4 linked regions of the Homo sapiens genome follow. The protein of the gene in region 4 interacts with the protein of the main gene of each other region in a biochemical or structural test. Each region holds a gene or a part of one and is shown on either strand. Other genes may lie near its edges. The genes, in order: UBA1, RNF7, BTRC and CDC34.

Region 1 (7,068 bases), on a different chromosome or scaffold from region 4:
GCAATGCAAAATAGTACAACCCTCTCTTCCACCCTCCCTCTCCCTCTCCTTTGTCTATTTTCCTGCCTCCACAGGGCTCACTGTGGGACCACAGATGCACCCCACTATGCCCAGCTAATTCTTTGATTTTTTGTGGAGACCAGGTGGTGGTGGTGGGGTGTGTGTGTGTGTATGTTGGGGCGTGGGGGGGTCTCACTTTGTTGCCCAGGCTGGTCTTGAACTCCTGGGCTCAAGCAATCATCCTGCCTCAGCCTGCCAAAGTGATGGGATTATAGGCGTGAGCCGCCGCGCCCGGCCAAGACTCCATTTATTAAAAGGCTAAAGAATTTTGCCAGGCGCGGCGGCTCGCGCCTATAGTCCCAGCACTTTGGGAGGCCGAGCGGGCGGTATCGCCTGAGCTCAGGAGCTCTAGTCCAGTCTGGCTAACGTGGCGAAATCCCGTCTCCACTATGGTAACATGTAAACATAGAAAAGATAACAGTAAAATTTTTTCTGTGTTATAGGACCGTTGACCAAAATGTTATGCAGCACATGATTGTATATCCATAATTTATATTACTGTATATAGTCACAGATATCTATTATAATACGGGTTTGTATGTGAAACTATAATTTTACTTATTGTTATGTTTATGGTCTGTGTATCTTGCTAGAATGTCAGCTCCATGAGCCCAAGGAAGAATTTCCAGCACCTGGCCCATGTCAAATGAACTTTTTTGGCCACCTGAGTCTCGGTCTCCCCATCTGTAGGATGGGTGTGCCTTTCCATGTGGAGGCACCCACACGTTCCGTTTCCTCTTCCCACCCTACAGAGCACGGCTCCGGCAATTCCACAGCTCAGGCTTACATTTTCCCATATTCTGGACGCTGGTGCCCACCACGTGCACCAGGCACTGGCCAGACAGAACTACCACCCCCAGCATGCCGCGCGCATTTGGGCCGTACCACAACCTGTAGGGTCATCTGGGTCTGAAACGGGCACCAGCGACGCGGGAGCAGGGACTGACGCCCCTCTAGCAAAGCATCTGTGGTACATCCCAGACCCGGGGCTCTCCAAGGCCCCGCGCTTCCGAGCTCCGCGCAAACTCTGGCTTCTCTTGTACGACAGAGGTGGTTTGCTCTTCCGTTGCCCCGTGGCTTCAGCTCATCTTTGGCAGGAAGGCGAGGCTTCCGCCCGGCACAGGGGGTGAGCTGGAGCACCGTGCCCCCAAGCCTCTGGACAGCATTTGGAGGAGGGTGCTTCCCTAATCCCAACTTCGGGGAAACCCCTCATGGGCGTATTTGGAGCCTCCGGGCCCGGGGTGATATTTAGGGGGCGTCTGCTTTTGAGACCCTTAAGGGGTGCCGTTTGGGGACTTCGGGGTGGGATTTGGGAGTCTGTTTCGGGGAGCACCCCTCGGAGGCAGGGTTTGGGGGGCTTTGGGGAGATTCTTAGGGTCCGTGTATGGGCACCCTTGTCCGTGGAGCAGGATTTGGGTTATTCTTCAAGGGGAGAAGCAAAGCTTGAGGTTACTAAAGTCAAGGCGGGACTGGGGGAGGGCTTGTTTCAGGACGGGGTCCTGGTGACAGAACAATCGGGACCGACGTGGCATTGTGGAGGTGTCAGGCCTTTGTGACCTCTGGTTTTGTGATGAGGTCCTCCCCGCGCCTGGAGGCTCAGGACTGCGAGACTGGACACGTCGGGGGCCCAGATGTTTCTAGGGAGAGGAGCCTCCCAGCTCAGGCTAGGGAAGGGACACCGGAGCCCAGCTCTTCCTGAGCTGACGAGGCGCCACCCGGCCTTTATTCATTATTCATAATAAGGTGGGGCTGTGGTAGGCGGCAGTTTTTTTGCCTCTTTCGCACCTGGTCCGCTGAAGGTTCTCGGCTTGTGAATTATTCACGAGGGGCGGATCAGCGTGCCGAAGGGACGTGCTGAAGGGGCGTTCTGAAGTCTGCCGCGCAAACGAGTTCATTGATGATTCGCAAAAGTTAAGTAGCACCCTGAGTTTTCAGTGGCTTTTCTAGGGGTTCCGTGCTTAATTCATGAGGAGCGTGGCTTTTGCAGCTTTGTCTGCGTGATCCGCGGTTAGCTTTCCCTTGCAGGTACCAGAGTTAAAACCTGGCGTCTAGCAAAGGGATGAGGCCTCCTACATTGTTCATTTCTTATGGCCTGGTAATCCCAGATAATCAGCCGGCTCTGGATTCAAATCCCATCGATCCTTTCCAGTTGTGTGATCTTTGGCAAATCGTTTTGTAAGCCTGAATAATGGGTATGAGGATAACGATAAGATTAGCTTACACTCGTTTAGCTACTTAGCGCATTTAATCTTCACGACAATCCTAGGAGGTAGGTCATTATTACCCCCACTTTATAGATAAGGAAACTGGGACACAGGAAGGCTAAGTAATTTGCCTAAGGTCACACAATCAGTGAGTGGCTGGGCCGGGATTCAAATTGGGGTCTAGTTCCGCAATCTGTAGTCTTAACCAGATGCCATAATGTCTCCCCTCCCCATTCCCCTGCGCCGCCATTTGATAGTACTACTACTACTAATATAACACTTAGCATGTGCCAGGCACTGGTCTAAGCCCTTTCTACTTATTTCTTCATTTAAACTCCATCGCAAGGTAAGTTGCTGTTATTCCTATTTTATGGATGGGGAAGCAGTGGCCCAAGTTGGGGGTTTCTCTAGTGGCTGAGTATTCATAACTAATTTTATATTAATGTAAATATATATTTACATATCTTAACATATTACTTTTATATTAATATATAATATTTTAAAAATTTAACAGTGCCTTGTGCCAGCAATGTTCTAAGGCTCATCCCATAATTTATATTCTCTGATTTTCTTTTGTTTGAGACGGAGTTTCTCTCTTGTCGCCCAAGCTGGAGTGCAATGGCGCGATCTCGGCTGACTGCAACCTCTGCTTCCCGAGTTCAAGCGATTCTCCTGCCTCAGCCTCCCCAGTAGCTGGGATTACAGGCGCCCGCCAACATGCCCAGCTAATTTTTGTATTTTTAGTAGAGACAGGGTTTCACCATCTTGGCCAGGCTGGTCTCCAATTCCTGACCTCAGGTGATCCACCCGCCTCGGCCTCCTAAAGTGCTGGGATTACAGGCGTCATCTGATTTTCATAATAACACATTACTATCCTCATTTTACAGTTGTGGAAACTGAGGCACCTGCCAAAGACATGTAGTGAGTTTGGGTTTGATTGGACCAAGGCAGCCCTTGTTCCTGAGGCGGGGAGAATGGAGGGAGGCGTGGAGAGGGGAGGTGGGGGCAGGGAGTACACGTCCCCTGGGTTTTCTGGTGGCACTGCAGTGACATCTTTCATTATTCATGAACAGGAAGGCGTGCTCACTTTGCCTTGGCTATAGCATCGTAATCCCTATTTGCTGGGCAGGGCAGTCTTGGGTGTTTCTTCGCCTTATGCATAATTCATAAATTGGGTGGAACCTTTCTTGACCTCTCTGAGTTTCCAGGTTGAGCTACTGCAGCAGCATAATTCATTATTCAGGACCTGGGAGAGTGTGTTTTCCCTGCAGCAGCCCCATTTCCCTGCTTACAGTGTATTAGATGCAGCAATAGGCGGGCGTGCCCCTTTTATTCCAACCCACTGGGCCTCATGCATTATTCATGAGTAAGTTGTGGCCTGGGTCTCCTTGGCTTCCGGGCCCCTGCAAGATCATCATTATTCATGAATGGGGGTGTGTGGCTTCCATGTTTTAACATCTGCTTTCTGGTTGCTGGTTGTTAGTCTACCAACCACTCAACTTCATGCATAACTTATAATCAGGAAGCATGGCCTTAACGGTTTTTCTTCGCTTCCTTGACAGCCTGGCTGCAACAATTCATTCATTAGTCGCATTCCATGAGGCGTGGCCTCTGTTTTACCTGTTTTCGTTGTTACTGCCACAATGTCCACCAGGTGGTGCTGTTCCACTTCTAACCGAATGAATCGCAACCGAGTAGGGAACTTTATGCATGATTCATAAGTAGGCGCGGCCCGCTTGCATCCGGGTTTCTGGGGGTGGGGCCCAAGGTTTTGTTCCGGCCCCAGGCTCAGCGTCCGCCATCTTGTGTCGGCGGCTCGGCTGTAAGGAGGTGGCAGGGACAACCACAACCACAACGGCCGGGGGAGGAGAAGGCGGCAGCGGCGATTCTAGGCGGCCCAGGCGGCGGGGAGGAGGAGAAGGAGGAGGGTGGCGGCCGGGCTTGGCTTCGGCTCCTTGAGGAGTTGGCGGCGGCGCGACCCGGGGAACCGGCATTGGTAAAAAAACGTCCTTTCACTGCGCCTCGCCCTGGGCAGGGGTTTCGGGGAGGCACTGGAGGGCCCTGAGCCACGCTGCTGTCGGGGCGGGCCGCGGTGACTCGGGAGCCAGGAATCAGCGGAGTAGGGAGGGGGAGCGGATCCTGGGGCGGGGCCGACTTTCCCCGGCCAGGACCACTCCGGCTCCCTCTGGTTGCAAAATCTGACCTTGGAGTCGGACCCCCAGGATGTGCTTTTAGAGACTCACGCCCAACATCTCTAGTCTGGGACCTGACTCCGTCCCGAACCTTGTATCTCAGATCAGAACTCTTCCCCAGTCTCCAATAGAGATTTACGTGGATCAGCATTGCTGATCAGAGCTCCTCACCATTGAATGCCGTTAAAGACCTGCCCCAGAATCTCCTTTGAGACACTTCCTAGCTTCTCAGTATTTGTCCTCAAGGCTTCCAGGACGGGCTAGATCTCGAAGGGGTCCATAGGCCCTTTATCTCTGTAAGAGAGTCCTCTTTAGCATTTTCCTTCAGACCCCCATCCCACACACATGCTAGCCGCGCTCAGAGCTTCCAGGGGTACTAGACCCTGTGAAAGGCCATTTGGGCCTGGCCTTTGTGTCGGGGGCCCCTCTTCGCCACACGTCAGGTCTCCTAACCCCACCCTGGCCCTAGCATCTTCCATCAGAGACTCTGCCCAGTATTTCTACTCAGAGACCCCTCTTACCATCTGCCTTGAGAGACTCTTCAATTCCTAGACTCTGTCCTTTGACACTTTCTCTACTTTTATGGAATTTCTCGCTTTTTATACTTCCAGTATTCAGAGACTACTGAGAGGCCTCAGCATCTTCCCCATCAGGCACCTTGAACCCCCAGAGCCTTCCAGTGCACCAGATACCAGGGAGGAACTGTTTGGATACATAATCCTCCATCAAAGAGCCCCTGCGAGCATCTGCTCTTGCAGATCCCGTTGGCTTCTAGCCCCTTCCATCAGAGACTCGCCTCCCCAACCCCACCCTAGACCCAGCCTCTGCCTTCAAAAACCAACCTGGGTTCTAGCTGCTTTTTTCACAGATCCCTTATCCTCACATCAGGCCTCAGAATCTGCCCTCAGATCGTTTCAAGGTCCCTAACGTCTGCAGTCAGGGGTTTTCAGCTTCTGCTTTCAGCCTCCTTGGACCCCAGGATCATTGTCAGATGTCCCTTCCCCCCACAGGCCTTCTTGTTTTCTTTTTCTTTTTCTTTTTTCCGAGACAGAATTGTTTCACTATGTCGTCCAGGCTGGAGTGCAGTGGCGCCATCTCAGCTCACTGCAACCTCCACCTCCTGGGTTCAAGCGATTCTCCTGCCTCAGCCTCCCGAGTAGCTGGGATTACAGGCATGCACCACCACGCCTGGCTAATTTTTTGTATTTTTAGTAGAGATGGGGTTTCACCATATTGCCCAGGCTGGTCTCGAACTCCTGACCTCAGGTGATCCACCTGCCTCGGCCTCCCAAAGTGCTGGGATTGCAGGCGTGAGCCACCGCGCCTGGCCATGGCCCTCTTGTTTTCTACTGCAGTAGAAAACCCTCTTCTCAGCATCTACCTTCAGCGCCTCCATGGGGTCCTACATAATTGGTCAGAGAAACCCAACCCCATTTGGGGACCTAGCCAGTGTTTGCTTATTAACCTTTTTAAGGCCTGCACTATCTGGGCCCAGCTTCCCGTTTCCACACCCTCAGAGCAGCTGTGATACCTAGCATGTCCTGTCAGAGATTGACACAGGGCCTTTGTGTTCCATTAGAAACCTCTCCCAGCCCCTCACCATCCACCCTCACAGCCTCCTGGGACTCTGTAGTAGGAATGTCAGATACACCTCTCCTCTTGCATGTCCCTATCTATTATTTTTGGTTAAAGATTTCTCTCTGCTACCAGCATCTGTCTCCAGAGTCCTCCAGAGCCTCAACATCCTCCTGATGGAGGCTGCCTCTCCCCCCAGACCCCAACATCTTCCTGCTGCCTCCTCAGACTCTAGAATCCCCCACCCATTCCCTTTGCAGCTTCCATGGGGCCCAGCAACTGTCCTCCTACCTCCTTGCAGCCTTGGGGGCCTCCACTGCAATTTTTCAGCCTTTCTCCAAAAGATCCTTTTCCAGAGATCCGAATTTGAGTCTTTTCCTAATACCCTAGCCTAGTCCTTTCCCTCCCAGGACTTCTAACATCTCCTTTCCCATTTGTCTCAGAGCCTCCTTGCTCTTAGACACCCACTTCCTGATTCTCCTCTCACGTTCCCATGGACTTCTCAGTTAACCCCTCCCAGAAAGCTTGACATGCTCCAGCCCCCCTTCTCTATGCCCTAGCTTCTCCATCCTGCTAACCTGCCTCCTCTCACACCTCCAAGACTCCTCCCTCAAACCCTCTGGTTTGGGAATAGAGAATGCTTACGCTTGAAAATCTTCAGTTTGGAGACTCAGGTATGTTTAGAAACTAAGCCACAGCTCAGCTTTGCCAAACAGTTCACAGTGTGTATGTTATGGTGGGGGCCTGAGCAAATGTTGAGGTAGGAAGGGTGTAGATTGTTTTTCTGCTGGGGGTGGGGGATCTTTAGCTCCTCTGCAGAGTTTCTGTCCCAGACTCCTGCTTGCCTTGAGACAGGGCTGTTCCAAACCTTTGCAGTCAAAATCCACTTGAACAATCATCTGAAACTTCTTAGACTCTTGCTGCCTGCACTGGGGATCCAGAGGTGAAATGTCCAGATATTAAAGTGCTCTCTGGCCCTGGATCATCTCTAATTTATGGAGTGAGGAAATGGCATGTCCCAAACAAACTGACCAATG
Region 2 (6,786 bases), on a different chromosome or scaffold from region 4:
GATCTGTATACTGCAGCCTCAAACTTCTAGGCTCAAGCAATCCTCCCGCCTCAGCCTTCAGAGTAGCTGAGACTAGTGTGTGCACCACCATGCCTGGCTCCATGGCAATAACTTAAAAAGCAGCAAAGTGCTGCTTTTTCGTATTTCTTTTTTTTTTTTTGAGACAGAGTTTCGCTCATTGCCCAGGCTGGAGTGCAGTGGTGCGATCTCGGCTCACTGCAATCTCTGCCTCGTGGGTTCAAGCGATTCTACTGCCTCAGCCTCCCGAGTAGCTGGGATTACAGGCACCTGCTACCACACCCGGCCAATTTTTGTTAGAGACAGGACTTCACCGTGTTGGCTAGGCTGGTCTCGAACACCTGACCTCAGGCAATCCACCCACCTTGGCCTCCCAAAGTGCTTGGATTACAGCGTGAGCCAACGTGCCCATCCATGTCCAAGCATTTCTATATTGAAATACAACTGAATTACAAGTTCTTTTTAGTTCTGTCATATAACAATTACATACATTTAAATTATATGTGTAGGAAATATATTTATGAATTTCACTTCATGACAGTAAAGGGGGACACAGTATTTTTATAAAAAAGGAAGCAATGGGACTGACAGAATTAAGATTTACTGATAGCGGTCAGCTGTAATAACACAATTTGCATAGAGGGAAAATTAAATAGCGAAAGATAACTTGTTTGTTTCTAATGCAACAGTAAAATAAAATCAGCACATTTAATCAAATGGAAAGAAAAACCTGTTTGATGCTTAACTTTTGTATTGGAACCCAAAATTGTCCCGGCATGTTCCCTCTGATGAGTATGTATTAAACTTTCAGATGGCTGTGCAGATGAGCTGTAATCATCGCAGGCTGAGCAGCATCAGCGCTGCTTTGTCACAGTGCCTCCTCTTCCCTCAGATGCTGGTGTGTGGCATAAACAGGGCTTTGTTAGGTGGCGGGACTGTGGTTTTGCTGTGTGGAAAATCAAATTGTTACCACCATCCTCCACATTTCATTTATATACTGTCACACTGCCTAAAGTAACCTGACATTCTACTGCTTTCCTCTTCAATGCAAAGCCATGTATCTGGTTCACATTTTAAGGATGCAACCTTCTAAAAAGGTCAAACAGAAAGTTACTAAAACAGTTCACTGCACAATGATAAACATTTAAATGGCCAAAGATATTTGTATAATTTTTTCAGTAGCTAGAAAGACAACTGTGAAAAAATATAAAGAAAAATTTCCAGAGAAATGTGATCAATAAAAAGTAACCCATATAAAAGCATACATAATTTTAATTTTTCATTCTAATTGTTATCTTTTTAAACATTCTATGTATCCACATCCCTTAGATTGAAAAATTCAGAATGGCACACTGCATCTGCAGATGTGAAAAGTTAAGATTCTAAGGTTTTTTCTTAAATTCATATCAGTAGCCTCTACTACAGAAGAATACAAAATGAACTTGTGGTCCATTATTTGTTACAAAATAACCTCCCCTCAGTGTGAATCAGTTTGATAAAGTTGTTTAGTATTTTCTTGCACTCTTTCCAGGTAATAAACCTTAAATTTTATTATTGTCAAATGAAAGAGCAAATGAATATGAATTCTTTCAAATTAAATGAAAGTATTTACTTGACAAATTAAGGTTGCATATAAAATTATAATGACAATTCAAATAAGGTAAGCAGAATAAACCATTTATTAAAACACTGTGTGATAAACTTTTTGATCCAATGCTACACTGGTAAACATTTTCCCTCATTAACATGTTACCTAAAACACAGTTAAATTATATCATCTGGGCCAGGTGCAGTGGCCCACACCTGTAATCCCAGCACTTTGGGAGGCTGAGGTGGGCGAATCACCTGAGGTCAGGAGTTTGAGACCAGCCTGGCCAACATGGGGAAATCCCGTCTCTACTAAAAATACAAAAATTAGCCGGGTGTGGTGGCACACACCTGTAATCCCAGCTACTCGGGAGGCTGAGGCAGGAGAATCACTTGAACCCGGGAGGCGGAGGTTGCAGTGAGTTGACATCATGCCACTGCACTCCAGCCTGGGTGGCAGAGCAAGACTTCACCCCCACAAAAAAAAAAAAAAAAAATTATATCATCTGACCAGAACTAGAAAATACTTCTGTCCTTTACCACTCAATGATTGAACAGTGAGGTGAGTGCAGATCTAGGTTTTCTTGATGAATCAATGATACAGAATAGTAACTTTAAAGGCAATCAAAATTCCATATGCTCAAAAGTTAAATTTTATTTACCCTGTTCACTGGCCCAAACTTAAAATCCTTATATCACATAAAGATTTCATGGACCGTTCCCTCTCCCTGCCAAAAATACGTATTAGGAACAAATTAAGAGTAAGAGTTGGGTTTTAAACTGCACTTTATTTGTTACTGTAACATTCTTTTTTAACTGATCAACCATAAGCATGCAAAAAGTTCTCTGAAACTGCTTCCACTGCCTGTTGTATAGAAATGGGTAAATTATAAAGGTGATTCAATTTGGAGCTCTTTCCTTTTTTATAGCACTTCTAAGCTGTGTGCGCGACACACACCACAGAGGTAGGAAGGACCACCTTTAATAAATTATCTTCTTAATCGCAGAGAATTTCTGAAGATAAAACTGACAAAATGCTAAACCAAGGCTTTGATGAGTCCCAAAGGACCACAGATCCATCGGCTCCTATTTGAAGAATTCATCCCCTGTAGTGTTCTAGCCTTTGTAGGGCACTGGATTACAAGATCCACCAGGGCTCTGAACAACTGCGCTAAGAAGCCTTCTAACCACTCTCATTTGCCGATTCTTTGGACCACCCAGTCCTGCTGGCAGAGAGGGCAGCGATTGTTCTGTTTCACCCACAGGGACATGCAGCAGTTGTGGAAGGAATGATTACATTCTCCCCAGACCACTGAAAGAAAGAAAAAGAAGAGTTGACATTACATATTTCAATTTAAACACTGAACTCAAAATTATAGCTTATTTTATATTACAAATAATAATCTTGAAAAAAGATAGTTAATTGGCCAAAATAATGTTTTTCTATCTATAAAGAAACAGAAACTTAAATGTGTAAGTTACACAGAGACATAAGTCACTGTTTGAGAGCCTTTCCATCACTGTTCTAGAATCTATGGGTGATGTGATGACCCCTAGTTCCTACACAGCTCCACATGCTGTCTTCTTGAAGTTAGATGAATGTTCTTGAACCTTCCTTAGATCTGACCTTCTCAGTCATGCACTGACCTTAGAGATCTTCTGGGCTTTATTTTATGGGAAAATGTCCTTCCAATTTTTATTTACCAAGACAGAATGAGTTGTAAATGTTTTTAGTATGCAGTAGGCTATTATAAATAACATGCTTCTAAACATTCAGTTGTGCATCTGAGCTGAGCTGTTTTCTAGAAGTGATGAATTGTGTTAAGTCACCCATAAGCAGTGCAATTCCTCATGTGACGATGAAATTTTCAAAGTGGCTGGCTGGAGAGAGAGGTCTCTCTGTGATCAAAGAAAGTGGCCTGCCCCTCACAATTCCCAAATTAATACTTTTTAAACAAGCAGCATGAAAGAAAAACTTTAAAACAAGGGAAATCATCCACAATCTAGAATGCAATCTCGAATTTGGGATTCATCTGTCCCTTGCTTGATCAACTGAGCTATATGACAAGAGAAAAAGATTAAATGAAAGAAATAAGGCAGAGAAAAAGATTAAATGAAAGAAATAAGGCAGAAAAAAAGAAAAAAATGCCTATGAAAATTGGCTACAGGGGGTAGGAAGCAAGGGTGAAACATTCTAAGCGTTTCAGGAGGAAGAACTGGATCAAAACTGCAAGAATCAATATTAAGAAGTTCTATGTACACCATGTATTTGTGTTCTACGTACACCATGCAAACACAAAATACAAAGCCAATCTTTTATTCTAAGAAAATCTATAAACATGTTTATATAGCAATCTAGACTTGATCACCTCAAGAACTAGGGCATAAAAATCTTTGAACTGCCTAAAATATTTAGCCTACGACAACTTTTGTAGTCTAAGACTCTAAAGAAAATTTGATACACAAACCACATTCCAAAAATATACTTGAGACTTAGAATTTTTCTACTCTGGTTTTAAAGTTAAATACTGTATTATAAGAGTATTGAAAAGTGAAATGCCTTATTAGAACCAAAAGTGACCTATAACATAGCCAAAATTCAAATAATGTTTTGACAAATTTCTGATTTTATAATTTTCTTAATAGAAAATATTTAATTTTTGATTACCAAAATGTTTATTATGACCATGTCTGGAATATATAACCAATTCTTCTTAATTATGGCAATAAAAGGACTTGCAGGTTCATTCCATTAAACTCTTTTGAGAACCAACATATTTTATATTAACAATGGATCACTGCTTTACAGTTTATTTTTGTGTATTGATAAAGTCAATCTTAATTTCAAATTCAAACATCCCTACTGAGAGAAAACCTTCAGTTGAAAAAGCAAGAGAACAAAATTACAACATACCAACACAGTCCTCTTGTTTGTTTTCAGCTTGACATCTAAGACAGGCATCTAAAAGTAAACAAATAGCGATTCTCATTCTGATGCTCAGAATGCAATTTTTAAAAACCAGACACTTCAAAGTCAAAAGCCCTAAGGGTTAGGGATGGCAATAAAGACTCATACTATTAATTTCTCATCTGAACATAACTACTTAAAGAGGAATAAAGTACAAGGCATTCTACTAATTATAACCAGGAGCAATTTCACAAGGGTTAACAAATCCTCTATTTTTATAAGCTCTGATGAAAAGATGTCCTGACGGTGCCAAGAGAGAAAACTACTAGAGAAAAATATGCCATACTCCACTATATTCAAAGTTACCATACGCTTACTGGGCATGCTCATGGACAGTTTATTTTCAAGACACCCTTTAAATAAACCATATATATATGTTAGCATTTGTTTATACATACATCAAGAAACACTAGGATACCCAAGGAACCAATAATAAAGTTTACTGGGAGGGTTTGGAATGGGAAGGAGAGTTTTCACTCTTCCAGGTAATATACATAACTTCCTCAATTTCTGAACTATATGAATATATAACTTATAAAAAATTAAATTAAAAAATTGCTTCATAAACAAGTTTTTTAAAGTCATCCATACTTACTGACACAGAAGCCTTCCTTTAGCAACTCATAAGAAGCAACTTTTTACTTTCTACCCTAAGACACTTGAGAGTTCCTCTAAAATAAACTGCTTTGTATGCTTCCAATAGGTTGCTACCGATGGTCATCCAGACAAGGCTGGTGAGAAGCCAGTGAGACAGAGGGGACAGCGAGGGCTGTGGAGCCAGATCTACAGTCAAATCCCATTTCACTGGCATTTATTAGGTTCAGGGCCTCGGACCAATTACGAACTCCAATTCCCTCATCTGTAAAAAAGGGACAATACTGTGAGGTATTTATATATTAAGTGGGGATGATACAAACTGGTGAGAATTTTACAGATAAAATAAGTAAATACTAGATATCCCTAAACACTAAGGTTTTTTCTTTGTAAGAAAATGCTCGCCTGTAATCCCAGCACTTTGGGAGGCTGAGGCGGGCGGATCACGAGGTCAGGAGATGGAGACCATCCTGGCTAACATGGTGAAACCCCGTCTCTACTAAAAATACAAAAAATTAGCCGGGCGTGGTGGTGGGCGCCTGTAGTCCCAGCTACTCGGGAGGCTGAGGCAGGAGAATGGCGTGAACCCAGGAGGCAGAGCTTGCAGTGAGCCGAGATAGCGCCACTGCACTCCAGCCTGGGCGAAAGAGCGAGACTCCGTCTCAAAAAAAAAAAAAAAAAAAAAGAAAATGCTTGAGAGCTAAATGATGAGAACACATGGCCACATAGCAGGGAACAACACACACTGGGGCCTTTTGGAGGGTGGAAGGTGGAGAGGATCAGGAAAAATAACTAATGGGTACTAGGCTCAATACCTGGGTGATGAAATAATCTGTGCAACAAACCCTTGTGACACAAGTTTATCTATGTAACAACCCTGTACTTGTAGCCCTGAACCTAAAAGTTTTTTTAAAAAAAAAAAGAAAGAAAGAAAATACAGATAAGTCTGAGCCCAAAGTATTTACCCAACAATGGTAAAGTCTTTTAATAAATTACTTTATTACTGGTTTCTTGGGTATCCTTCTAGAATTTCTTGATGTATATATAAACAAATACTAACATTATATGTATGGGTTATTTAAAAGGGTGCCTTGAAAATAAACTGCCCATGAGCATGCCCAGTGAGCTTATAGTAACTTCTAATATAGTGGAGTAGGTGTAAATACTAAAAATGAGATCCTAAAGGCTGTACTAGAAGTTTTCAAAATTCAATCTGGAATACTATCAGCTTAATGAAAAAAGTAATATAGAATATTTTAGGGAGCAAAAATGGACTCATTCACTAGCTGGAAGAGGAGTCAGAGTTGGGTAAAAGGAAGTTTGAACCAACAGAAAATAGTTTTTAACATAAATAGGAGAAAAATAATTCTGTAAAAATAGAAACACGGTTAAGTTGAAGCCTGCTTCTCTTCTTACACTGGATTCTGCTCAGGCATTTGTTTGCTCCTTTCCACATGCTCTTACCCTTAAAAAAACACCACTGCCCTAGTCTCTTCAGTGTGGATTAAAAACAACCACTGCCTCCTGAGGTTTTCTTCAATCCCACAATTACTATCTCCTCTGTGCAAGGAGTTATGCACTGGGGACACCAAAATGACCAAGGCTGGGTCTCAAGGGGC
Region 3 (6,947 bases), on a different chromosome or scaffold from region 4:
AGGCAGAGCTTGCAGTGAGCCGAGATCGCACCACTGTACTCCAGCCTGGGCAACAGAGCGCGACTCAGTCTCAAAAAAGAGAGAGAGAGACAAGGTCTTGCCAGGTTGCCAACCTGGTCTTGAACTTCTGGGCTCAAGAGATCCTCCTGCCTTGGCTTCCCACACCTGTGTGTAAGCCACTGCACCTGGCCCTATTAATGCCTTTTATAGCTGTTTTCTCTGCTGTGTATCAGTGTCAGTGTATGTGTGTTGTTCCTGTGTCCAATCAGGGATCATTCATTGCATTTAGTTGCCATGCTTCTTCAATTTCCTTTGAACTAAAATCTTCCTTCTTTCAGACAAAACAATGCTTTCCTTAGACTCTCAACTTCTACATCCCACCACTGTGCTAGCTTTTCTCTCCTTCCCTAGATAGCCACGTTTTGTAAAGAAGAGACTCAGCAGTCTTCATATCCTCACCTCCCTCTTCAACAGGCTGCAGTGTGGCATCTGCACCCCCTAACCCCTTCATGATCCTCACTCACCAGACTTTCCTGCTACCTCTCTGGTCACTTCTTGGGCTACTTTGTAGGCTCCTCTTCCTGTGCTCGTCCTATAAATCTTACAGTTCTTTAGGACCCTGTCCTAGTCCTGTTGCTCTTTCCACTGTTTATGCTTTCCCTGGGTGATTTCTTTTCTTTCTTTATTTTATTTATTTATTTTTTTGAGACAGAGTCTTGCTCTGCCACCCAGGCTGGAGTGCAGTGGTGTGATCTCGGCTCACTGCAACCTCCACCTTCTGGGTTCAAGCGATTCTCCTGCATCAGCCTCCTGAGTAACTAGGACTACAGGTGAGCACCACCCCACCCAGCTAATTTTGTATTTTTCATAGAGATGGGGTTTCACCATGTTGGCTAGGCTGGTCTCGAACTCCTGACCTCAGGTAATCCACCTGCCTCAGCCTCCCAAAGTGCTGGGATTTCCAGTGTGAGTCACCATGCCCAGCTCCCTGGATGATTTCATTCTTTTCGGGGGAAGAAGCGGGAGTGGAGTTTCATTTACCACCTACATGCTGGAATCCCTATTTGTAGCCCAGGTCTTTCCCTCCAACTTCAGTTTCAAATCTCCAATGGCCTCCTCAACATCTGAATCCACTTAGAAATCTCACAGGCACCTTGAAGCAATATGTCCAAAAAGAGAACTGATTATCCTCCTACCACTTCTACTGTGCTTTCTGTCAAAAAAAAGAAAAAAATACATATATATGGCATCCCTCATTCATTACCTGAGCCAGATACATAGAAGTCATCTTTGACACATCCTTTTGACATCATCCATGACACATCTAATCAATCACCATACTCCACTGATTCTATCTTCTTAGTATCTCTGGAATCCATCTACTTCTTTCTGTTCTCACCACCACATTCAGGCTGCCATCATCTCTCCCAGGAATATTTCAGCAACCTCATAATCCTTTCCCCAAGCTTCCAGCTGTGCTCCATTTTAATCTCTCCTCCACCCTGGACTCTGAGTGATTTTCTGAAAATGCAAATCTGACCATTTTTTAAATTGTTCAGCTAGTTTCTCACAGCTCTCAGGATACAGTCTAAATGACTGAACTTGGCCTATAAGCTGGAGTGAAAGTCAAGGTATTTTATATCTGGTAAGGTACAGGCCCTGATGCCAGTTTAGAAAGCATGTCAGCTGATTTATCTGACCAGTTTATGCCGGCTAAATAATGGCTTGCCTATAGAGCCCCATACTCTTCTGCAGTCTCATCTAGGGCCACTCTTCCTCTAAAGTCCCACTGATCTTGTTTTGGTTCTCAGAATCAATCACCAAAAATGCAGTTACCTTTGCCTGGAATACTCTTTTCCAGTGGCTGCACCATCATCCCACCTTATCTTTTCATTTATTTATTTATTTATTTTTTTTGTAACTCCATCCTGTTACTGCCTTAGTCCTCTGAAAACCTCCAGCTAGTTTTCATACGAATGCGTTTGAAGTCTTCTCCATTTTGCACTTGTGTAGAATTTTTTTAAAAATTCAAGAACAAAACTTTTTATTAACTGAAAGCCTATTATGTATTAAGTATCATGCTGAGTTTTGTGGATATAGGGGCTAGGACAAAGTATCAACAGAGTAAAAGTGTAAGCTCCACGAGGAAATAACTGGGTCTGTCTTGTTCATTAATGAATCCCCATTCCTTTTTCTTTTTGTTTAATTAATTACTTTTATTTTTATTTCAATAGTTTTTGGGGTACAAGTGGTTTTTGGTTATATAGATGAATTATAGTGGTGAAGTCTGATATTTTAGCCACCCAAGTAGTGATGAATCCCTATTTCTTGAGATGATGTCTGCACACGGTTATATGCTTACCATTTGTTGGATGACTGAGTGAATAAGATAGTTTAAAATGGAGATTTTTTCCTATAAGTCAAAAAGTATTTTCCTAGTTCATTTATTTTATAAATTCAGATATTTTGTACAAGGCTGTCACAATCTAACTCACTTTTTTTTTTTTTTTTTTTTAGACAGAGTCTCGTTCTGTTGCCCAGCCTGGAGTGCAGTAGCGTGATCTCGGCTCACTGCAACTTCCGCCTCCCGGGTTCAAGCAATTCTCATGCCTCAGCCTGCCGAGTAGCTTGAATTACAGGCGCGTGCCACCAGGCCCGACTAATTTTTGTATTTTTAGTAGAGACGGGGGTTTCTCCATGTTGGCCAGGCTCGTCTCGAACTCCTGACCTCAGGTGATCCACCCGCCTTAGCCTCCCACAGTGCTGGGATTACAAGCGTCAGTCACCGCGCCTGGCCCTAAATCACTTTTGTTGTTGTTGTTGTTGTTATACTGTTCTTTTTCATTGCTAAGTAATATTCCACTGTGCTACATATGGAATATGCTACAATTTGTTCATACAACCACCTGCTGAGGGGCATTTGGGTGTGTGTCAGTTTTTTAGGCTGTATAACCAATTATCACAAACATAGCAGCTTAAAACAACCTAAATCACTTTTAACCAAACCCTAGAGTTTTCTCCTCCTAAGGTAGACCCAATTTCCAAAATAAACCCATATTGTACCTTTTCAGGCCAAAGAAAATATTTATATGCTTTATTTGCTGGAGGCCATTATATTCCACCGTTGAAGGACTTTTGTTAAGTACCTGTTTGACCCTTAGTGCAGGGCTTACATCCCACAGTTAGCAATAGCAAGTTATGTGCTTTTTGAGCTCTAAACACTGAGAATTTCTTGAACCGAGTTCTATTCGGCCCTGACTTGCTGTGGGGGAGAAAAGATTCCTCGGGAGAAGTGTGGGTGGCGATGGCTTAGGAGGACCTTGAAATTCCGCATTTGTCTGTGAGCTGCTGCCAGGTGCCCATTGGCCCAGCTACTCTGGGTCGCAAACCTGCAGATGCCAGATACATGAAATTTGGGGACGTTCAGCTTCCTAAAACCACAGTTAGGCAGGTCCTAGGACCCGTGATTCTTGCCACAGTTTTTCTTAGTATTTGGGCTACAAGTGAGGCATTGGCCGCCATCTTGATATCAAATGCCAGGCAAGCCGCTACTGGCGTCGCTCGGTAACCACGGAGACACCCGTGCCCCTCCCGTTTCTCATCCTTAGAGGCTGTAAACTACAATTCCCATCAGCCGATTTCCTCTGCGTAATGGCAACTTATCTAAATCTGGCTTGTGGGCAACCGCAACGCTGCCGCAGTGAACTGTGGGAGTTGCGGTTCACGGCGTAGCCTCAGTTTTTTTCCTGGGGGAAGTTCCAGAACTACAAATCCCGTGAGCCAGTGGGCTTTCGCCTGCGCACGGAGAAGCCGATTCTCCTTGGCCCCTCAGCCTGCGCCTGAGAGGTAAGAGAGGGCGGGGGGAAGGAAGAGGAGGCGGGATCCGGGCGCTGCGTTGGCTGCGGCCTGGCACCAAAGGGGCGGCCCCGGCGGAGAGCGGACCCAGTGGCCTCGGCGATTATGGACCCGGCCGAGGCGGTGCTGCAAGAGAAGGCACTCAAGTTTATGGTGAGGAGACGGTGGAGGCCGGGGAACGGTGGAGGCGCTGGCGTTGGCGGCGTCGCTGGCCTGGGCCGCCCGCCCACTGCGGGACCGGGCAGCGGGACCCTGGGCCGAGGCTGGCGGCGGAGCGGCTGGAGGGATGGGATGGGAGCTCCAGAAAGGAGGCTGGGGGTTGCGGAGCGGACCCAGGGGTGGGGGCAGCGGCTCCGCCATCTTGTGGATGAGAGGCCAAGTGACAGCGGGAGCTTAATCGAGGAGGGGGCTCCAGGCGGCGCGCGGGGCCCTGGAGGGAAAGGGGCGTGGGGACTGTTACTGAAAAGCGGAGGAAGCTCTCTGGAGAAACGCCGTGAGGCCGCTGGCGGGGCCTTCCTGGTGTCAGGGTTACCGGTAAGGCCCGGGAGAGGAGGTGCATTCACGACTGGGGAAGGGAGCGCGGGATAGAGTGAAGACAGATACGGTGGGTAGAGGGGAACGGGCAGGGCTGGATGCAGATGGATTTAAGGGTGGAGGAGGGAACGCTAGGGCTGGTGAGAGGCTTATAGTTTTGTAGAATGAGGAGGGAGGATAGCCTTTGCCTTGAGGGTGGAATCCCAGCTTGGCCAAACTACTGTTGACAAACTCTGGAAGGGAAGAGGCCTCACTAAAGAAGATAAGGACTGGGAATGAGGACCTAGGGCTATAATGACAGTCCCTGGGAGGGGAAAAGGGTGTTGACTGTAAGCTAGAATTACAAATGTCAGGGAGGGGTACATAACGCTACTTTGAAAGGAGAAGCTAAATACTGTAATAAGGACAAGGTGATGAAAAGTAAGAGCAGATTGTCAGGGAAACATGGGTACAGGAGATTGGGGCAAAATGAGTATCTAATAGGGTAAGCAAAACAAAATTTAAAGGTAAATTGTGGGACGGTAAAATGTGGAGGCCAGGTGCTTTGTATCATTTTCTGGGAAAGGAAAGGCCGTGGAGATGAGAGTTGCAAAGACCCATAAGAAGTGATGAGATCAGTTGAGAAATTTAGGAGATAAAAAGGGTGGAGGTTGGTAGAGGGAAGTAAGTCAGGGATAAGTCAGGATTTGTGGTTACCCGTCAGTTTTAGGTTGAAGCACAGTGTGAGCAAAGATTGGATTTTGTGGGTGTGCTTAAACCCCTTGGAACATATTTCTTTAACTTTGTATCACGCTTTTCTTTTTGCTGTGCTTATCTTTGGCAAACTCGTATAGTCTGATATTTGATGCTTTTAATCTGATGCTTTTTGTATTTCCTAGGTGTAAAACCAGACTTTGTGGTTACAACTAAAGAATGATGGAATGCATAGATTTTAAGCTTAACAGGTGGCCTTAGGGACATTGATATTATTTGCAGTCCAGTCTTGCTTTTTCAGAAGTTATTGTGACTTGTCACTCCAAATCTTACTCCTTTGCTTAAAAAAATAGCTATTTTGTATCTTTGCCTAAAATACCGTAACAAATCCAGATAAACATGGATACTAACAAAATTGAATTTTAGACTTTAAACTGCCCCATTTATAAGAATACTTTTTTGGAATCTAGTCAAATTCACTAAAACTTTATCTTGCATTAGTGTTTTCGAAAACACCTAATTAAAATTCAGGGGTATCATTAACAAAATTTCATTGAGCCTGAAGAAGGTTCTTGGATTTCTGCCCAACATTAAAATTCTAAATATGAAGAAGAGACCTTGAACTTTTACTGGACTTTAGAAGTAAGTGAAAGTTACTACACTTAAGTTAGAAAACTGTTACTGCTTATTTTTGTTTTCCTACTTAGAGGGTTGACTCCTTTTTTTCTTCTTTTGAGATGGAGTCTTGCTTTGTCGCCCAGGCTGGAGTGCAGTGGTGCAGCCTCCGCCTCCTGGGTTCAAGCGATTCTCCTGCCTCAGCCTCCCGAGTAGCTAGAACTACAGGTGTGGGCCACCACGCCCATCTAATTTTTTATTTTTAGTAGAGTCGGGGTTTCACTATGTTGGCCAGGATGGTCTCATCTCCTGACCTCGTGATCCGCCCACCTTGGCCTCCCAAAGTGCTGGGATTTCAGGTGTGAGCCACAGCGCCCAGCAGAGGGTTGACTCTTAATCCTAATCCTGACATTTGTGTCAGATTTATGGAATAATGTGATTTACAGATCATAAAGAGACATTATGAGATCATCCTTTTTACTCTCAGTTAGACTTCAGCCTAGTAACATTCTCAGCTACTTAATCTCTGCTTTGTACCAGTGAGTTATGTTTTGATAATGGCCTCCCTGGTTGAGTTAAAGTGGACTTGGAGATGACCATATAGTAGTTGCAGCTTTTAGAGCACCACACATTATTAAATCTTGAATCAGTTTTCATAGGGAGAAGCCAATTTTTTCTTTTAATTTTAGTTACTTTCATTATTGACCTTGCCTGCTGTTTTGGCTGCCATTTGAGAAAAGGTCAACTAGAAGAGGGTCACCAGAATGACACCTTAATAAAAGAAACAGAGAATGGAGAGTTTGAGATTGGGTATTCTCTTTCAGTGCAGTAACAGTCTTATGAATCTGAGTAAGTCACAACTTCCCTTTGGTGCCATTTACCCTGCTATAACATGTCTGTTTATTCAGAGTCAGTTTTAAGAAAGGAAGATAGGCCGGGTGCGGTGGCTCATGCCTGTAATCCAGGACTTTGGGAGGCCGAGGCAGGCGGATCACGAGGTCAGGAGATCGAGACCATCCTGGCTAACATGGTGAAACTCCGTCTCTCTAAAAATACAAAAAATTAGGCGGGTGTGGCAGCGTGCGCCTGTAGTCCCAGCTACTCGGGAGGCTGAGGCAGGAGAATGGCGTGAACCCGGGAGGTGGAGCTTGCAGTGAGCCAAGATCGCGCCACTGCACTCCAGCCTGGGCGACAGAGCAAGACTCCGTCTCAAAAAAACAAACAAACAAAAAAGGAAGATATTGGCCAGG
Region 4 (7,835 bases):
AGGCATGAGAGCAGCAAGATGCCATCGTGTAAGAGTCTCAGTGACATCTTGGGCTCCACAGGAAGACCTTTGTACAACTATCTTATCTAACCCACTTTCAAATTAAAAAACTGAAAGTCGGGCTGGGCGCGGTGGCTCATGCCTGTCATCCCAGCAGTTTCAGAGGCCGAGGCAGGCGGATCACCTGAGGTCAGGAGTTCGAGACCAGCCTGGCCAACATGGCGAAACCCCGTCACTACTAAAACTACAAAAATTAGCCGAGTATGGTGGCGCACCTGTAATCCCAGCTACTCGGGAGGCTGAGGCAGGAGAATTGCTTGAACCCAGGAGGCAGAGATTGCAATGAGCCAAGATCGTGTCACTGCACTCCAGCCTGGGCAACAGAGTGAGACTCTGTCTCAAAATAAAATAATAAAATAAAATAAAAAACTGAAACTCATAGGCCAGGCACGGTGGCTCATGTCTGTAATCCCAGCACTTTGGGAGGCCAAGGAGGGTGGATCACATGAGGTCAGGAGTTCCAGACCAGCCTGGCCAACATGGTGAAACCCCATCTCTACTAAAAATATAAAAATTAGCTGGCATGGTGGCACAAGTCACCCACTTGGGAGGCTGAGGCAGGAGGATCACTTGAACCCGGGAAGCAAAGGATGCAGTGAGAAGAGATGGAGCCACTGCGCTCCAGCCTGGGTGACAGAGCAAGACGCCATCTCAAAAAAAAAATAATTAAATAAATAAATTAATTAAATAAACCTGAGACTGGGTTTAATGTTTGAGCGATATTTCCAAGGTCGTGGCAGAAACTAGATTTGAATTTAAGGTTCTTCTCTGCCATGTGATGGAAAACCTAACTCAAACTGGCTTAATTAACGAAGAAGGAATTTATTTTTACTTATTTATTTATTTTTGAGATGGAGTTTCACTCTTGTTGCCCAGGCTGGAGTGCAATGGCGTGATCTTGACTCACCACAACCTCCGCCTCCCAGGTTCAAGCGATTCTTGGGCCTCACCCTCCCGAGCAGCTGGAATTATAGGCATGTGCCACCACGCCCGGCTAATTTTGTATTTTTAGTAGAGACAGGGTTTCTCCATGTTGGTCAGGCTGGTCTGGAACTCCTGACCTCAGGTGATCCACCCTCCTCGGCCTCCCAAAGTGCTGGGATTACAGGTGTGAGCCACGGCGCCCGGCACGAAGAAGGAATTTAACCTGGTTGTGGTGGTGTGCACGTGTGGTCCCAGCTACCTGGGAGGCTGAGGTGGGAGGACTGTTTGAGCCCAGGAGTTCAAGGCCAGCCTGAGCAACAGGAACGGGGGCAGGGAGGGAGGAAAGGAAAATAAACTAAAAAGGCTGGGCGTGGTGGCTCACGCCTGTAATTCCAGTACTTTAAGAGGCCAAGGCAGGAGGATCACTTGAGGCTGAGAGATCGAGACCAGCCTGGCCAACATGGTAAAACCCCATCTCTACTAAAAATTCAAAAATTAGCTGGGTGTGACAGTGCACGCTTGTGATCCTAGCTACTTCGGAGACAGGTGGGAGGATTGCTTAAGCCTGGGAGGCAGAGGTTGCAATGAGCTGAGATTGCGCCACTGGACTCCAGCTTGGGTGACACAGAGAGACTCCATCTCAACACAAACGAACTAAGAGGCAAGAATTCATGAGCTTGCATCATTGGAACATCCAGGGGAGGTCAGGTAACAGCATGATGCAGGATCACTAATAGGATTATCAACGTTTCCCCTCTCATCAGCCGGCTCGGCTTTCCTGTGATGCCGCCTTTGTTCGGAGGCCCCGTGGTGACACCATGACCCCGTAACTCCAGCCCCAGGTCCTTCCAGCTCAGCCACCCCAGCACTGTGATCCCAGAGAAATGTCCCAGAGCTGAATCTCATTGGACGTCAGGAGTCACATGCTTGTTCCTGAACCAATCATTGCAGCCCAGGGTGGGGGCCCTGGGAACTGATGGGATGGCCCCTCCCTGCAGCCAGGGCTTGCGTCAGTCCAATTCGAACCCGTTCCCACAGAGTAGGGAGCCCCCAAGCAGGCAGGTGGAAGCCCCTGGTGTCCACCGCTCCCGGGTGCTGTGAGCCTGAGCCTCCCTGGGGGTCGGGGCCCTGTGGGACCAGCTGGAGGGGCTTGAAAATCTCCCCAACCCAGGCCGGGCGCGGTGGCTCACGCCTGTAATCCCAACACTTTGGGAGGCCGAGGCGGGCGGATCACGAAGTCAGGAGATCAAGACCATCCTGGCTAACACGGTGAAACCGCTTCTCTACTAAAAATACAAAAAATTAGCAGGGCGTGGTGGCATGCGTCTGTAGTCCCAGCTACTCAGGAGGCTGAGGCAGGAGAATCACTTGAACCCGGGAGGTGGAGGTTGCAGGGAGCCAAGATCGTGCCACTGCACTCCAGCCTGGGCGACAGAGCAAGACTCCTTCTCAAAAAAAAAAAAAAAAAAAAAAAGCGAGAGAAAGAAAACCTCCCTCACCCACACAGTGCTTCCTGGGATGTGGGTGTACGGAAGAAGAGAGATCTTGGGAGCCCTTAGAGAAGGAATCGTGGTTAATTCTAATTAGCATTAATTTACCCATGAGCTGCTGCCTGCCGGCTCCATGATGCTGGCAATATATCCACGACCTGTGGCACGGAAGAGACTGAGGCTCACAAAACCCTGGGAACCTTGGTGAAGGGGCCACAGCCAGAAGGCCCCACTAGTCCCGAGACCCTCCTTTTACTCCAGGCCCCCAGGGTGCCGGGCAGAGGGGCCTGAGGGAGGAGGCCCAGAGGCCCTTACGGGTGAGGACGCCTCGGCCTCGGCCCTGGACAGCTCTGGAAGTGACCGCTCGGCCCAGAGCTCTTTCTTGGATCCCTCCCTCCCTCTCCACTCCTGATGCTGTTTTCCTTTCCCCAGACAGGTTTGCCTGCTGGTCCTCTTCCGGGGACCAGACTCATGAAGCCGGGGCCAGGTGTTGGGGCACCTGCGGGACAGAGTGGCCCTGGTCCCAGACTGGTTTTTGTTTTTGGTTTTTTTTTTTTTTGAGACGGAGTCTCTGTCGCCCAGGCTGGAGCGCAGTGGCGCTATCTAGACTCACTGCAAGCTCCGCCTCCCGGGCTCACGCCATTCTCCTGCCTCAGCCTCCCGAGTAGCTGGGACTACGGGCGCCCGCCACCACGCCCAGATAATTTTTTGTATTTTTAGTAGAGACGGGGTTTCACCATATTAGCCACAATGGTCTCGATCTCCTGACATTGTGATCCGCCCGCCTCGGCCCCCCAAAGTGTTGGGATCACAGGCGTGAGCCACCGTGCCCGGCCTGTATGTTGATGCAGCTGTGTGTACCCAGGGCATAGCAACAATGCCACTGGCACAGTCCGAGGGCAGGGCCACCCGTCACGGGCACGACTCAGGGGAGGCTGGGCTGCCCCGTCCTCACCACGGCCAGTTCTCCCGACCAAGCTTCACAGCAAGGAGCATGTGGGTGTCTGGGCAGCCACTGAGCCAGGTCAGAAGTCAGGTGGGGTCACAGTGATGCCCGGAATCAGCTGGGGTCAAGACTCAGGTGGGCTGGGCGCGGTGGCTCATGCCTATAATCCCAGCATTTGGGAGGCCGACGCAGACGGATCCCTTTATTAGTCCAAACTGCATCCTCCCCTTCCTTTCAAAACCTAACAACACACTTGAGGTCAGGGGTTCGAGACCAGCCTGGCCAACATGGTGAAACCCCATCTCTACTTAAAATACAAAATTAGCCGGACGTGGTGGCGGGCACCTGTAATCTCAGCTACTCGGGAGGCTGAGGCGGACACTAGCTTGAACCCGGGAGGCGGAGGTTGCAGTGAGATTGTGCCACTGCACTCCAGCCTGGGCCACAGAACGAGACTCTGTCTCATTTAAAAAAAAAAAAAAAAAAAAGACTCGGGTAGGACAAAGGTCAGGCTGGGAGGAGGGCACAGCCAGGCTCGGGCTCAGCTTGGGGTGGGGGCTCCGTGGGGCTGGCGCCTCTCCCGGGTCAGGTGCTGAGCCGATGCTGGCCGGCGTAGGCCTCTTTCCCAGTTTCTCTGGGGGGCAGGAGCACCTTGCCAACCTCTGATGGCTCCAGCGCCTGCACTCGCCTCACACCACATGGTGACTTCAACGGGGACCAGGGAAGCCCTCGCCCCTCCCACCCCTCAGAGCCCTCCCCGACCTCGCCCACTTCTCAGAGCTCCCGCTGTCGGGGGAACCGAGGCAGCGCCGCGCCTGGAAGCCAGGTCTGCGGATCCCGCCTCGCTCCCGCCCCTTCCTCCCTTCCGCGTGGCCAGCGCGACCCTAGGACAGACTTCGCGCCCGTCCCCTGCACAGACGGGGAAACGGAGACGGGGACGCGGGGTCGCGCCGGATGGACCGGCCCTGCCCCTCCGGTCCCGGTCAGGACCCCGCGCCGCGCCCCGTTCACCGCCCGCGGCCCCGCCCCGCGCCGGCACGTCACAAAACAACCCCAAAGCCGGGGGACCGGGCCGGTGACGGCGCAGAGCAGCCCTGCCCGCCTCCTTGCGCACAGCGTCCGCGGTGCTGGTCGAGCAGGGGGCGACGGCGGCGGCCTCGGGGATCGGAAGAGCCCGGGGCTGCGCGCTCGAACCCTCCCTCCCGGCGGAGGCGCTCGGCGCCGTAGGCGGGACCGGGGCCGGGACTCCACCTCCCGGCGTCCCCTGCGGCCGGGCGCGCAGGCGCAAGTCGGACCTGGCCGCGGAGCGCAGGCGCAGTCGGGGCCAGGCGGTGCGCGCAGGCGCAGCGGGGGGCGGGGCGCGCGGGCCCGGCCAAGGCAAGCGCCGGTGGGGCGGCGGCGCCAGAGCTGCTGGAGCGCTCGGGGTCCCCGGGCGGCGGCGGCGGCGCAGAGGAGGAGGCAGGCGGCGGCCCCGGTGGCTCCCCCCCGGACGGTGCGCGGCCCGGCCCGTCTCGCGAACTCGCGGTGGTCGCGCGGCCCCGCGCTGCTCCGACCCCGGGCCCCTCCGCCGCCGCCATGGCTCGGCCGCTAGTGCCCAGCTCGCAGAAGGCGCTGCTGCTGGAGCTCAAGGGGCTGCAGGAAGAGCCGGTCGAGGGATTCCGCGTGACACTGGTGGACGAGGGCGATCTATACAACTGGGAGGTGGCCATCTTCGGGCCCCCCAACACCTACTACGAGGGCGGCTACTTCAAGGTGAGCGCGGCGACCCCCGCCCGGGTCCCGGAGCCCACGAGCGACCTCGGGCGCCGGGAACCAGCTCCCTGCCCCGCGGTCCTAGCGCTGTTGCTGGGCGGGCCCCGAAGCCTCCTGGCTTGGGCTCGTTTCCCTTCTATGGCCACGTTCCCCCACCCAGCTCTGCCCGGCCCCCTCCTCGGACCGTCTCGGGGACCTTCAGCCTCTGCTGCAGTCCTCGAAAATCCCCAGTTCCCTTCAAGGCATCGTCCGGTCCCCTGTTAGGCTCTTGGCCCCCGGAGGGGTGGCCGGGGGCCCTCCCTGTAGCATCTGGGCGTGGGGCTCTTGCCCACCTCCTCCTTGGCGGGGGCTGGACCCCGGCTGCCTCCCCCTCCGCCCCTGCGAGAAAGAGGGAGCGGAGCCCAGGCCGCGCCGGCCTTTCAGCTGCCCTCCCCGCCCTCCCCGGAGGAGACAAAGAGGCCCCCCCAGACCCCGTAGCTGCTATTGTTGGGGAGCTGGGCCCGTGAGCGGGGGAGCGAGGCCAGCCTGGGGGTGGCTGGCGCGGCCACTCGCTCAGTCTCCAACAAAGGCCCGGATGAGCCTTGGCAGCCAGGACCCGCCTGGAAAGCGGCCACCCTTGCCAGTAGCAGCCGGCCAGGCGCCCTGGGCTCCATCCCCTGCTTTATGTAACCTGCGCCCTCGGGAAGGCCGAAGTAGGGGCGTGCCTCCCACCTGCTCCCTGCAGCTCTCTCCAGGCCTCCCGGCTCGGGCCCGCGTCCCGGACCCCGACCTCAGAAGCTCCGGGCTCGCTCATCCCAGCTGGTCTTGGCCTTTCTCAGAGTCCACTGAACAGGTGGCTTCTTGGGACCCAAACCCCGAGTTCTGGGCCGTTTCTTCTGCCCTCTGGCGGTTTAATTCCAAGCAGTTTCTGGATGTTTTTGTTGTTGTTGGGAGCGGGGAGGCTGTTTCTGTCTCATGTGAAAAGGACTCAGGCCAAAACCAGGGCAGTTTTCTTGATCTCACGATCCAGACGTGACCTTTGACTTCTTTTAGCGTTCAGGGACCTCGTTCTTGGGGCCAGAGGGACAAAGCGAGGGGCCCTGTGTGAGCGGTGGGGAACGAGCACCCTGTCCAGGAATCTCCCCCTCCCACCGTCACTTCCTGCCAAGAGCCTGGACACGACACGACACTGCAGGGCCCGGCCCGCTCTGCCCCGGCCAGCTGCGGGCGTGGGGCCGAGGGACCGATGCCTCCCGCACGATATGTGTCTGCTCTCCGAGCTAATTAGTGTCTGAACCGCACCCGCTCAGCGGCTGTGAGGGCAGCAGCCTGGTCTGCTGGGGGCGATTCCTGAGCAGAGAGTGGGACGCCCGTGGGTTCTGCATCTGGAATCCTGCGTCCCCACACAGGGAACAGAGTTTGGGTCTCGAGGTTGCCAAATGGTTTTAGCAGCTCCTCCGCCAGCCCCTTCTGTCTGCTTGGGGGAGCAGCTGGCTGAGGAGCCGCAGCCCCACCTCGAAGCCAGGCCTGTGAGGCGGCTGCTGTTCTGGAAGGAGGGGATGGGGGTTTCTGGCTGCTGTGCCCACCAGACCGGTTGCCAGGGATTGTGGGCAGAGCTTCCTGGGCCAGCATTAGGGGATAATCCGGTTTTCCGGATTTCCCAGGGAGGGGGCCTCTAGACATCTGCCACAGGGTCAGTCCTCAGAAGCCAGTGTTGAGACGGGGGTGCTGCCACCCACGAGGACTCTCCCTTCCCGCTGTGCCTGGGAGGGAGTTGGGGGAGCGTGGAAATACAGAACCTGCTGAGTGCCCAGGGCCGCTGCTGCCCAGCCACTGCCTGCAGCTGCTGTTCCTTCAGGAGCCAAAGTGAGCCCTGGGGCAGGGGCCGCCAGAGAGAGCCCTCCACAGCCGACTTGCTGTCTGCCCTTGGCAGGGCGCTTTCCTTTTCTGAGCCTGGGTTTGCTCCGGGGAAAAGACATTCTTAGAGGTGCCCAAAATAAGAGGCTCATTGGGACTTGGTGGGGTTTGGTACAGATGAGGCCTTGGCTGTTGTCAAGGATTGCCGCCTGAAACCCAGCACCAGGCTTGGGGGGCCTGAAGTCTTGGGGAACCGCAGGACAGTTCTGAGACTGAAGTTCCAGCCTTGCTCTGTGGCCGCGGCCAAGTCACTTGCCTTACGGGGCACCAGTGAGTTCCCTGTCAAACAGAGGACACCCCCCAAGACACCCCGCGTGCCCTCCCTGTCCAGGAGGGGCCCGTCCACGATCCAAGACCCCCAAAGTGCCCTGCCTGTCCGGGAGGGGCCTCGCCCACAATCCAAGACCCCCGAGTACCCTCCCTGTCCAGACCTCGCCCACGATCCAAGACCCCCTGAGTGCCCTCCCTGTCCAGACCTCACCCACGATCCAAGACCCCCTGAGTGCCCTCCCTGTCCAGACCTCGCCCACAATCCAAGACCCCCGAGTACCCTCCCTGTCAAGGCCTCGCCCACGATCCAAGACCCCCGAGTGCCCGCCCTGTCCAGACCTCGCCCACGATCCAAGACCCCCGAGTGCCCTCCCTGTCCAGACCTCGCCCACGATCCAAGACCCCCGAGTGCCCTCCCTGTCCAGACCTCGCCCACGATCCAAGACCCCCGAGTGCCCTCCCTGTCCAGACCTCGCCCACGATCCAAGACCCCCGAG

The links.
Region 1: of the proteins of CDC34 (region 4) and UBA1, one has a biochemical effect on the other in vitro, tested with the Homo sapiens proteins (7 studies listed by BioGRID, with this or other methods).
Region 2: the proteins of CDC34 (region 4) and RNF7 form a complex in vitro, tested with the Homo sapiens proteins (5 studies listed by BioGRID).
Region 3: the proteins of CDC34 (region 4) and BTRC form a complex in vitro, tested with the Homo sapiens proteins (4 studies listed by BioGRID and IntAct, with this or other methods).

Annotation. Positions count from the first base shown.
Region 1 is NC_000023.11:47,189,765-47,196,832, forward strand, and holds the start of UBA1 (ubiquitin-like modifier-activating enzyme 1), read left to right. Parts: upstream 1-4,064; 5' UTR 4,065-4,260; exon of another isoform or gene 4,261-6,668; coding exon of another isoform or gene 6,669-6,705; exon of another isoform or gene 6,706-7,068. UniProt on the Homo sapiens protein: Catalyzes the first step in ubiquitin conjugation to mark cellular proteins for degradation through the ubiquitin-proteasome system.
Region 2 is NC_000003.12:141,741,290-141,748,075, reverse strand, and holds the end of RNF7 (RING-box protein 2), read right to left. Parts: intron 5,433-6,786; exon of another isoform or gene 5,169-5,432; intron 4,568-5,168; coding exon 4,520-4,567; exon of another isoform or gene 4,519-4,519; intron 2,918-4,518; coding exon 2,799-2,917; 3' UTR 516-2,798; downstream 1-515. UniProt on the Homo sapiens protein: Catalytic component of multiple cullin-5-RING E3 ubiquitin-protein ligase complexes (ECS complexes), which mediate the ubiquitination and subsequent proteasomal degradation of target proteins.
Region 3 is NC_000010.11:101,350,221-101,357,167, forward strand, and holds the start of BTRC (F-box/WD repeat-containing protein 1A), read left to right. Parts: upstream 1-3,944; 5' UTR 3,945-3,960; coding exon 3,961-4,008; coding exon of another isoform or gene 4,009-4,389; intron 4,390-6,947. UniProt on the Homo sapiens protein: Substrate recognition component of a SCF (SKP1-CUL1-F-box protein) E3 ubiquitin-protein ligase complex which mediates the ubiquitination and subsequent proteasomal degradation of target proteins. Recognizes and binds to phosphorylated target proteins.
Region 4 is NC_000019.10:526,937-534,771, forward strand, and holds the start of CDC34 (ubiquitin-conjugating enzyme E2 R1), read left to right. Parts: upstream 1-4,823; 5' UTR 4,824-4,995; coding exon 4,996-5,172; intron 5,173-7,835. UniProt on the Homo sapiens protein: E2 ubiquitin-conjugating enzyme that accepts ubiquitin from an E1 ubiquitin-activating protein, and catalyzes its covalent attachment to other proteins by an E3 ubiquitin-protein ligase complex. In vitro catalyzes 'Lys-48'-linked polyubiquitination.